Linked DNA regions of Homo sapiens: region 2 is linked to region 1. The links come from fine-mapping of genetic effects on gene expression. A gene starts in region 1. The other region holds a variant in brackets. All regions are shown on one strand. Distances are between the middles of the regions.

Region 1 (5,000 bases):
AGTTTAAAGAGCCGGTTCGACCCGCTTTCCTGCTTGCTCCCGGGGGGCCGGCAGCGTCGGTCGGGTTCGCCAGGCCAGCCGCGCCCCCGCACCCACCCGCGGCGACCCCGGCCCCGCGCTTGGCGCCCTTCCCCCTCCGCGCAGGGGGCTTCCGGAAAGTACGCGGGAAGACCGCGGCCCCGGCCCCCTCCCCCATCACCACACCCAGCCCCCAAACGCTAGGCGCCGGGTCCCGGCCGGGACGAAAGCGGCCGGAGAGAGGCAAACCGCCCGCAAATAGTGCGCGGAAACTCCGGCCTCCACCGGCGGCGCCCCCTCCTCTCCCGCGGCCGCCCCCTCCCCGCCCTGCGCGCCATAAGGCACTCGCACGTCTCCAGTCCACAGCTGCGTTAAGGCGGGGAGGGGGTAGACAAAAAGGATCTTGTTTTCAAAAGTCTCACTCAGGTTTGGGGGAGGAACTAGGGAAAAGAGGAAGCGAGGCCTGCCTTCGCCGGGATTCGGGTTTAACGGGCTAGAGGGGCGACAGGCCAGCGCACGGTGCTGCCCAAACTCCCAACTCCATGGAGCTCGGGCCACCGAGACTGGGGGCGTCCTCCCGCCAGCGCGTCCCCGGTCCCCCCAAGGGGCCAAGAGGGGAGCTGGCCAGGGTCTCCGCCCCAGAGCCGCCAACTCGCCGAAAACACTCAGGTTTGAAAGCGAGAGGGAGGCAGAAATAAAAACCAGCGTTCGAGTCACCCACCCTCACCTTCCCCCTCCTCAGGGGTAAGCTTTCGCTCGAGCCTCGCGATTCCCACCCGTGTAAGTTTCCTCCGGCCGTGCTCCCGCCGCTGCCCAATCAATAACGGCGGCTAGCGGGCAAACTCCCATCCTAGAGCTGCGTGTTTGCCATGCCCGCATAAACGTGGACCCAGCCAGTACCCACCACGGGCGCCAGCTCCGGGCAGCTCGCGTCCTGACAAAGTTTCCCGTGCCCATTTATTAAGCAGGCGCCGAATGGCTGCCGACAAGCCCAGCACTGAGAAAGACGGGCCGGGGGTTCGAGCTGGGGGGCACCAGGGCCCAAAGGCTGGCATCTTGGGGAAGCCGGAAGGAGCTGGGGCGAGGGGGCACCGGGACGTAGCCTTTGGGCAACTTGCACCAGCGATCGCTGGAGGCAGGGAGACGCGGGGATTATCTGTGCCTTAGCACGTTCGAAAATCCCTCCCCCTCCTTCTAATTTATCCTCCCTTCGGAAGGAAAGGAAGAAACATCAGCATCTGGCCCGAAGGTGGGGTGGAAAGAGTGAGGGAGAAAGAGGAGGAGAGGAAGGGAGGCAGAGAAAGGGAGGGAGGGAGAGAAAGGGCGCGTTCACGAACACTACAAAGTTACAAATATGGCTCCCCCGTCTCTCGCCTCATCACTGCAAAGAAATGAAGACGCACTTTAAACTCCAGCCATTCCCAACTCCGCTGCAGCCCCCTCCCCACGCGCTCTCCCCGGGGGCCTCGGCCCACATTTATCAGAAACTAAACCGGACTCGCGAAGCCCCAAACTTATTGTGTGTGCGAGCGAGCGAGCGAGAGAAAGGGAGGGGGGAGGCGCGGGAGGGGGGCGGAAGGGGGGATACATTTATAAAATGTAAAACCCCCTTTTTTTGTTGTTAAATCCAGGAGGCAGCCCCTCTCCTCCTCCTCCCTCGTTAATCTTCCCCCCAGACGGAGTCACGGGAGCAGCGATCTCCGAGGGTGATTTCGCCTCATTCTCTCCGACCCAAACGCGTGCGCCCGCCGGCCCCCGATGGGTGCACACTCGCACGCACACTCTCGCACCCACACTCGCACACGCGGGAGCACACGCACAGGTAGTCACACACCAAGGGCAGCGGCGGCGGCAGCCGGAACATGCTCGGATGGCATTGCAACCCCCCAGCCTTGCCAATTCGCTTGCAGTCCGACCCCCAAACCCGCACCTCCCGGGCGCCCCCCCCCAAAAAAAGTGCCTCCCCCCAGCGCGCACACACACACACACACACAAAGTAGGAGAATGGACCGACAGAGATATTTTTGGCAAATGCTCACATCAGAGGGCGTCCTGTTCCGCAGCTCTAAATGAATCCGTCTGCCCATCTCCATCTCTCGCGCTCTCTCTCTGCAGAGGCTCCCGCGCCGGCGGAATTCAATCAATAAACCCCGAACCCACGGCCGCGCGTTTTAGGACTTTGAAGGCTCAACCAGCTCCGCTCGGTTCTCGAGCCCCCAGCACCCGCGGCGCACACTAACCTGATCGCCGTGGAGGCGGGATCTGCGGCCCCATGGACGAGCGGCAGCGGCCCGAGCCAATCGCCGCCGAGGGTCTCCGGGCAACAGCCAATGGCAGTGGCGGCGGGGGGGGGAAGGGACCAATGGGCGGGCTGCGCAGCCGGCCAGGGAGGCTCGGCCATTTGGTAGTGGTGCCGGAGACGGACCCCTTTAGATTTCGGGGCGGCTGAGGAGCGCGGCGGCTGCTCTGTGGCTGAGTGAGGGGGGTGGGCGGAATGGCGGGGGAAGGGAAGGTGACTGTGCCTCGAGGGCCGAGCCGCCCGGCCTTGCCAGCCAGCCGCCGCCTCAGCGTTCGGCCGGGGGCGGGGCCGCAGGTGCGTTCTGCGAGGGGGAGGGGCGCGGCCGGAGGGGTCGGGTCGGGGTCCCCGCCCGGCCGAGGGCTTCGCGGGGCGGCGCGACGGGGTTGCGGAAGGAGGCGGGCGGCTTGAGGTCCGGGGACCGCGGGCTGCCCAGCGGGAGGGCAGATGAAAGGCCTGGAAGGAGGAGAGGGGTCAGGGTGCAATGCCGGGAGGGGCTCGTCGGGTCCCGGGTCCGGCGGCTCGCGCTGGGGAGCGTGGCTGCCCCCGTCACCCCCACCGCGGCTGCCCAGCAGCCCGCGCGCCCCTTCCCCTCCGGCCTCGTCCCTGTCAGGCCGCCACCATCGCCACCCTCGTATACATAAGTCAGTAAAAGCAAGATGCTTCCACTTTTGGATGACTTACCGCGCGGTCGCGACCCTTCCCACGAAGAGGCTTTTCACTTTGCTGTCATATTAGGTCAGCTTGGAAGAAGTGATCACCAAGAGACACCCAAGATCTTGTTTAGGCAATAAATGAATGAAGACCATGGATTAAGAACCGTTGCTAGATATGTAGAATATTAAAAGGTGGAAAAGGAAGGTGCTCATAACTCCTGGTTTTCTGGACCAAACATAATTTCTGGGCTTTATAGACCTAGTGAAAGAGAACGGCGCACGGTTTATTCTAATCGTCCACCTGAGTCATTCGGTTCGGTTTGGGTTGCCAAGGAGGCTCTAACTGGAGCCCTTTCTCCTGGTTTTTCGGCGTGGTTGCCTTGGGTATTTTTGAATCACATTAAGTTTTAAGAGACCTTAAAGCCCCGATGCCCACTGGGTTACCGACTTACGGCACTAAGTTGGCTGCCTGTGGCTGTTAATAAACCACGGGGATTGTTGTCAACGAGGACAGATACATCCTTACCTTTCCACACGACTGTATTTTAGTGTTTGTTTCTACATGTCTGCACTCTTCCCCACACGCCTCAAGGTAGTTTTTCTGGATACATATGTTTATTTTTCAGGAACAGGAGTTCAAAGGAGAGATAAGCCAGTATGTATGTTGCAAAGTTAAAATACTGTTGCATAATAGCAATCCAGTTTCATTCTTAGACATACGAAGTTGAGGAGGAAATAAAAAGTGACAATGTAAATAAAACACATACAGAATGCTTACACTGGGGAAGAAGCTGTAGTAACTTTAATATTGCAACCTGATGGATTGCAAGTGTAAAGCCCTGCAACTAAGGATTTTACTCAGTAAATTCTTTCAGATAAAATGATAAATGGAATTTGAAGTCTGATGTTTACTCTGATTAGGTGGGAAATGCACCATAAAAGTTAGAAGTCATTGTTTTATTTTATCTGGGTATAAATAGTATAATTTATTTAACTTGTTGACTTGCCTGTCATCCTCAGATTTTGTTAATCTTATTGAAGCCTATTTGTATAGTTGGAATTTATTCTAAGTTTTATTGGCTTCTTTGTAATACATGAGGAACCCCAAATTTCCTATTTATGCCATTGAGACAGTTGTTATTTCTGGATATGGTGTTTAGGATTGTATTCAAACAGAACTCTTATCAAAACAGGTCAATATGGTGTGTATGATCTGTGTAACATAGGAGTCCTGAAGTTTGTGTTCTCTTTGATGGTAAATGTTCATTTTCAATTTAAAAGTTTAACCACAGTTAAGACCACGCTGCTAGCAATGCAATATGAGACAGTGTCTTTCCAGAGGAGTAATCCCTTAAAAACCAACCAATCAAATGCAGAGATATGCCCCATCCAGCTTTGCTAAATAGAAGCAAATAGCTCACTTTATTGTACAAAGACTCAAGAGGAAGACTTAGAAGCCCACCCCCTCCCCCATTAAAGAGAAAGTACAGAAACAAATTAGAATCGAAAAAATCATGGCCTGATTACTAAATCAAAACGTTAAATGTGACAGTTGTTTTTAGAAGCATCTTACATTTATACATTTTGATGACTTTTGTATTAATGTTAGAAAATTGAAAGAAGGCTTCACTGGATGTCAGTCGTTACAGAAATTGAAATATCCAAAAGTATATGTATAACCAATTGAGTAATTTCCGCTTTCCTTACACACTTGAAATAAATTTTCTTTTGCTTTTACAAATAGATCTATATGTAAGAAAATTTTCATATGATTTTGCTTTTTTATTATTAAAAAAGGAATATAGTAAAGCCAAAGCTGAGCTGTATTTGCCCCACACAACATGACCAAATATAAAAAAAACCACTGCTCTTACAAATATCTTATTTTACAAAGTTGTTTTTTAAATTACATTTTATTGTATATTATAATAGTAAATAAGTGTTCTAAGTGGCACTGCATTTCAGAAAATATAGAAAGAAATCCCATATCAAGGAATCTTGGCTGAATTTTGAAACGGAGTTGGGAACAG
Region 2 (5,520 bases), 52 kb before region 1:
ATATTTACTACCTAGATTCTATAATGAACATTTTGCTGTATTTACTTTACCATATATACATCAATTAATCTTATTTTTTATGCACGTCAAAGTGCAGAAATCAGTGCACTTCATCTCTAAATGCCTCAACATGCATATCATTAATAAAAGTTCTCTATTTATGTTTTTTTATTTTTGTAGTGTACACACAGTGAAATGCACAAATATTATATGTGTTTGGTAAATGCACCTGATAGCAATAACTTAGGGTTACCCTGAAAATGACCCCGTATGGCAGACACACCTGAATGTGAACTAGGGCATCTGGGAGTGGCCAACCTGGAGATTTGTTCCTTGTCTATGAGGAACATCTGAGCCCCAGTCCCACCCTGCGGAAGACAGCCCATATGGGAGATTGAGTCTCTGAGTTCTGAGCTGAATGAAGGTTGCCAGGTGAAGGTTGTTAGGGTGCTAAGTGGAAATGCTGTATCAACTGCATGCCTTTTGCAAGCAGTTGCATTTCTTCTGCCTGGCCACCACGACTGCACTCTCTCTCCTACAGGTAAGCCCCCAGTAAAACTCCGTGTCACATTTGGTGGCTCTGGGTCTCTTCTTTGGCCTCTAGAGCCTAGTGCCATCATCACTGGAGTCGATAGGGGTTAGCACAAAAACATGTTGATTTTTTTTTTGAGATGGAGTCTCACTCTGTCGCCCAGGCTGGAGTGCAGTGGCGTGATCTCAGCTCACAGCAGCCTCTGCCTCCCGGGTTCAAGCAATTCTCCTGCCTCTGCCTCCCGAGTAGCTGGGACTACAGGCACGTGCCACGAGGCCCGGCTAATTTTTTGTATTTTTAATAGAGACGAGGTTTCACCATGTTGGCCAGGCTGGTCTCAAACTCCTGACCTCAGGTGATCCACCCATCTTGGCCTCCCAAAGTGCTGGGATTATAGGCATAAGCCACTGCACCTAGCCAGATTTTGACAAATGCATACACACGTGTAATCTGCACTCAAATTAAGAGAATAATTCCATCTTCAGGCAGTTCCCTCATGCCTCTTTTCAATCAGTCCCCATTTCCATGCTGGCAGAGGCTTGCTATTAAATTTTATATAAATGGATATGGGGTGTACACTTTTGTGTCTGGCTTGGTTTTGCTCAGCATAATGTTTCTGAGATTCTTCTGGGTGGTGCTTATCAGTAATTCACTGATTTTTATCGTTGGGTACTATTCTGTTGTATAGATACACCCCAATTTTTTTTTCATTCATGTTTTTGGACATTTGAGTTGTTTCCGGTTTGGGGCTATGACAAACAAAGTTGCTGTAAACTTTCTTGTACAAGTCTTTTGTGAATGTATTTTACTTTTGTTGGGTAAATATCATGGCATAGAATGGCTGGGTCCGGCTGGGCGCAGTGGCTCACACCTGTAATCCCAGCACTTTGGGAGATCAAGGCAGGTGGATCACTTGAGTCCAGGTGTTTAAGACTAGCCTAGGCAATATAGCGAGACCCTGTCTCTACTAAAAATACAAAGAAATAATAGCTGGGTGTGGTAGTGCACACCTGTGGTGGTCCCAGCTGCTTGGGAGGCTGAGGTGAGAGGATCGCTTGAGCCCCCAGGGGTCAGGGGGGAATTGGGGAGGGGGCATGCAAAGATTGCAGTGAGCTGAGATCATGCCACTGCACTCCAACCTGGGTGACCCAATGAGGTCTGTCTCAAAAACAAAAACAAAACAAAACGAAAAAGAAAAAGAAAAAAAAATTGCTGGGTTGGAAGGTATGTATACAATTATAAAATTAAAAATTGCCAGAATGTTTCCCTAAGAGGTTGTACCATTTTCCAAGCCCACCAGCCAATACATAGCTCTCTGATTGCTCCACATCCTCACCAACTTTTGGTGTTGTCAGTCTCCTTAATTTTCACTGCTTTAGTGGATGAGTGATAACTCATTGTGGGTTTTATTTGCATTTCCCTGATGATTCATGATGTTGGGCACTTTTTCACGTGCTTATGAATTTTGACAAATGTATACACATGTGTAATCCACACTCCAGTAAAGAGAATAATTCCATCCCCCGCAGGCAGTTCCCTTGTGCCTCTTTCCAATTAGTCCCCATTCCCATGCTTGTAGGAGCTCTTCTTTTGTGGTCTGTTCAAATATTTTTCTCATTTTTTAATTTTTTTTTTCTTACTGAATCTAGAGCATGTTAACTTTTCAGGTGACAATAAACTTTACATACTATCCCCATTTGTATGCACAGTAATTGTTTTCTCTTCTTTTCAATAAATATTGTAACATCCCCTACTGTACCTTTTTCCTCCTAGAAAGCTAGAAACTGCATTTTTAAGTGTCAGAAGCCTC[T/C]TTCCATTCTGAGACAGTTTTAAGAATTCTCATTTTTGGTGGCTGCTGATCAAATTTGGCAAAATTTTGTCTGTCACTATAAAATCTCAAGGGACACCTCAACTCCAAATCGTGCTTCAGTCTGCTGTCTTCAAACAGAGCAGAAAACAAGCCTCCTTAAACTTTGTAGCCCCACCCAATACCTACTCCAGTGGTTGGCATGGTGGTCAATATCTGCTCTTGGCCAGGTGAGAGGTGGCGCATGCCTGTAATCTAGCACTTTGGGAGGCCGAGGTGGGTGAATCACCTGAGGGTAGGAGTTTGAGACCAGCCTGGCCAATGTGGTAAAACCCCGTCTCTACTAAAAATACAAAAAAAAAAAAAAAAAAAATAGCCGGGCGTGGTGGCAAGTGCCTGTAATCCCAGCTACTTGGGAGGCTGAGGCAGGAGAATCGCTTGAACCTAGGAGACAGAAGTTGCAGTGAGCTGAGATCATGCCACTGCACTCCAGCCTGGTGACAGAGTGAGATTCCGTCTCAAAAAAAAAAAAAAAACAAAAAAAACAAAACCTCTCTCCATATATCTTTATATATCTGCTCTCATTTACTATTTTCTGGAGTGTGGTCCATTTCCTAAAAACCAATCTGTCGAGAAGTTTGACTCCATAATGTCAACAGAACCATGGGTTTATCCTCTTGTTTAAGACCCCTCACTGCAAAAACTCCATATTTCTGCCCCGCTTTGCCTGCTAAGGAATTGAATGGCAACAGCTTCGAGCTGATAAGTAGTAATAAGGACTGTGCCAGGAACCAAAACGATGGAGGTCAAGTCAAGTCAGTTAGGCACCTGTAGAATATGAATAGGGTTCAAGGAAGCCAGCAAGTCAAGTCAGGTAGGCACCTGTAGAATATGGATAGGGTTCAAGGAAGCCAGCAAAGACAGGTTCTGTGACTGAGGCCCACAGGGGGATCTAGAGTGCTGAAGTGTGGGCAGCCAGACTCAGGCACTCTGCTGCCTTAGACAATCCGTGGAGCTCCAAGTGGTGAGCACGCCCACAGCCTCTTCTGGGAAAGTGGGCCCAGGCAGTTCTTTCAGCACAGTTGAGAGGGCCTATAAATTAAAGCAGGAGCCCCCTCACCAGATGATTGAAGCAAGGGTTGGTGTCCAAGCCAGAACCTGACCAATCAGGGGGCTTCCTAGTGTTGGTGACCAACCAGCTTAGGCAGCTCATTTTTGCCTGGGTCATGCAGAGAACAGCAGAGTGAACTGAATGCCTGTGGCCCTGGAGCTGCCATCATATTTAGGTGATAGAGGAACCTTTGCTGCAGTTGTCCAAAACACCTGTTGTATGGTCTGGATGGGGCTTGGATGGTATAGTGGTGTTCCTGATTTCCCCCTGCCATCTGAATTCTAACAATGAAGTTTGGAACACTGGCCAGAGGTGACAGGGGACACCTGACTTATGTATCTGGAAAATGGATGCTCAGTCAGTGAACTTCTTGCCAGAACTGGTCTGAGAGGGTGGGTGGATTGGAGACAACAGGCAGTGACTGCCATCTGTTCCTGGTTAGAACAGAGAAGTGAGGGTGTGGGGCTGCAGGAAGTTGGGCAGCCCTCAAAAGGAGAGGCCAGCAATCTCCAAAGACTCAGAGAAGACAAGCAGAACCCAAGACAGCCAGCATCTCTGTGGACATCCATAAGCACTGGAACAGAAAAATCTGGCTCTGTAGCCTGCCCTAGCCCTGCTGCACCAGCAGCTTAAAAATACTTCCTTCCATGTATATGCTCAGGACCCTGAAGAGCAAAGCCTAGAGCTGTGTTGTCCAATATGATAACCACCTGTGTCTCTTTCCACTTAAATTAATTAAATATAATTAAAAGCTTCATTACTAGGCCAGGTGCAGTGGCTCACGCTGGTAATCCCAGCACTTTAGGAGACCAAGGCGGATGGATCACTTGAGGTCAGAAGTTTGAGACCAGCTTGGCCAATGTGGTGAAACCCCTTCTCCACTAAAAATACAAAAATTAGCTGGGCATGGTGGCATGCACCTGTAATCCCAGCTATTTGGGAGGCTGAGGCAGGAGAATCGCTTGAACCCAGGAAGTGGAGGTTGCAGTGAGCCAAGATCGCACCATTGCATTCCACCCTGGGCGACAGAGTGAGACTCCATCTCAAAAAAAAAAAAAAAAAAAAAAAAGCTCCATTCCTTAGTCTCTAGCTGCACTGCAAGTGCTCTGTGGCTGGACACAGTGGCTCATGCCTGCAATCCCAGCACTTTACCAGCACTTTGGGAAGCTGTGGTGGGAGTATTGCTTGAGCTCAGCCTGAGTAACCTAGTAAGACACTGTTTCTATAAAAAAAAAAAAAAAAATTAAAAAAATCAGCCAGGCAGTTACTCAAGAGGCTGAGGTGGGAGAATCATTTTTGCCCAGATGGTAGAGGCTGCAGTGAGCTAAGATTACTCCACTGCACTACAGACTGGGCAACAGAGCAAGACCCTGTCTCTAAAAATTAATTAAGAAAATACATGAACGTTATAGCAGGAAAAACAAGGGCTATTTTCTACCCTTTTCACGTCCTCAACCTGCTGGGACCATGTGTGGTCCATTGGTAAGCAGTTGATGAACCTCCTCTTTTGCTCCCTGCCTGATAACTCCACTCCCCCTGCAGACTTCTCATGAGGAAGCCAGAAGGATGGCTGCCCCTTCTTCCTGGGCCCCAGAGCCTGGAACTGGGGCATTGTTCTTTGTTCCACATTACTGCTTCCATGGCTCCTCCCTTCTCCTTCAAAGAGGCATGAGTGCCTCTTCGTTGCTGCATTTGGCTTCTGCATGAGTGAGGACTAGCTTTGATTCATTATTTTTTTTTCTATTACTATTCCCATTATCATTCTCAGCAATGTCAACAATCTCAAGGATTAACCTTCCAATACCTTGGCTTCTCACTTCTGCAACCTCCTCATCTCCAGTGAAAGTCGGCTCCTGTATGCTATGAGACACCTGCTCCCAGAGTCACATCCTTGACCTTCTCACTAACCCCAGCAACCCTTCAGCCCTAGCACATCTCCATCTGTTGACCTTCCCCACCTTCTCACTATCAATGCTGACTCACTTCCCTCCCTAGCCAGCTTAGAACTCATGGTCCATCCTTACAGCCTTCTAAATGCCCTATCCTCCATGGCCTGTGCTTTACTCATCA

Which allele goes with the higher level. Alleles are on the strand shown, and positions count from the first base shown. SD is a standard deviation of normalised expression in the study named.
In carriers of allele T in region 2, the expression in tibial artery of the gene that starts at base 2,255 in region 1 tends to be lower than with C alone (small effect, 0.36 SD a copy in GTEx).

The links.
Region 2: its variant is fine-mapped to the expression of ANP32A in tibial artery (GTEx, PIP above 0.99).

Annotation. Positions count from the first base shown.
Region 1 is chr15:68,818,641-68,823,640 of GRCh38, forward strand. It overlaps ANP32A (acidic nuclear phosphoprotein 32 family member A), which reads right to left and starts at 2,255. Exons shown (of 7, transcript NM_006305.4): 1 at 2,058-2,255. The coding sequence starts at 2,111. RefSeq lists silencers at 1-46, 97-336, 597-706, 2,207-2,456, 2,507-2,666 and 1 more and enhancers at 372-953, 954-1,535, 4,817-5,000.
Region 2 is chr15:68,766,529-68,772,048 of GRCh38, forward strand. No RefSeq gene overlaps it. Among named protein-coding and RNA genes, the nearest start is that of MIR4312, 33 kb to the right of the region's middle. The variant T/C (reference allele first, on the strand shown) is at 2,343.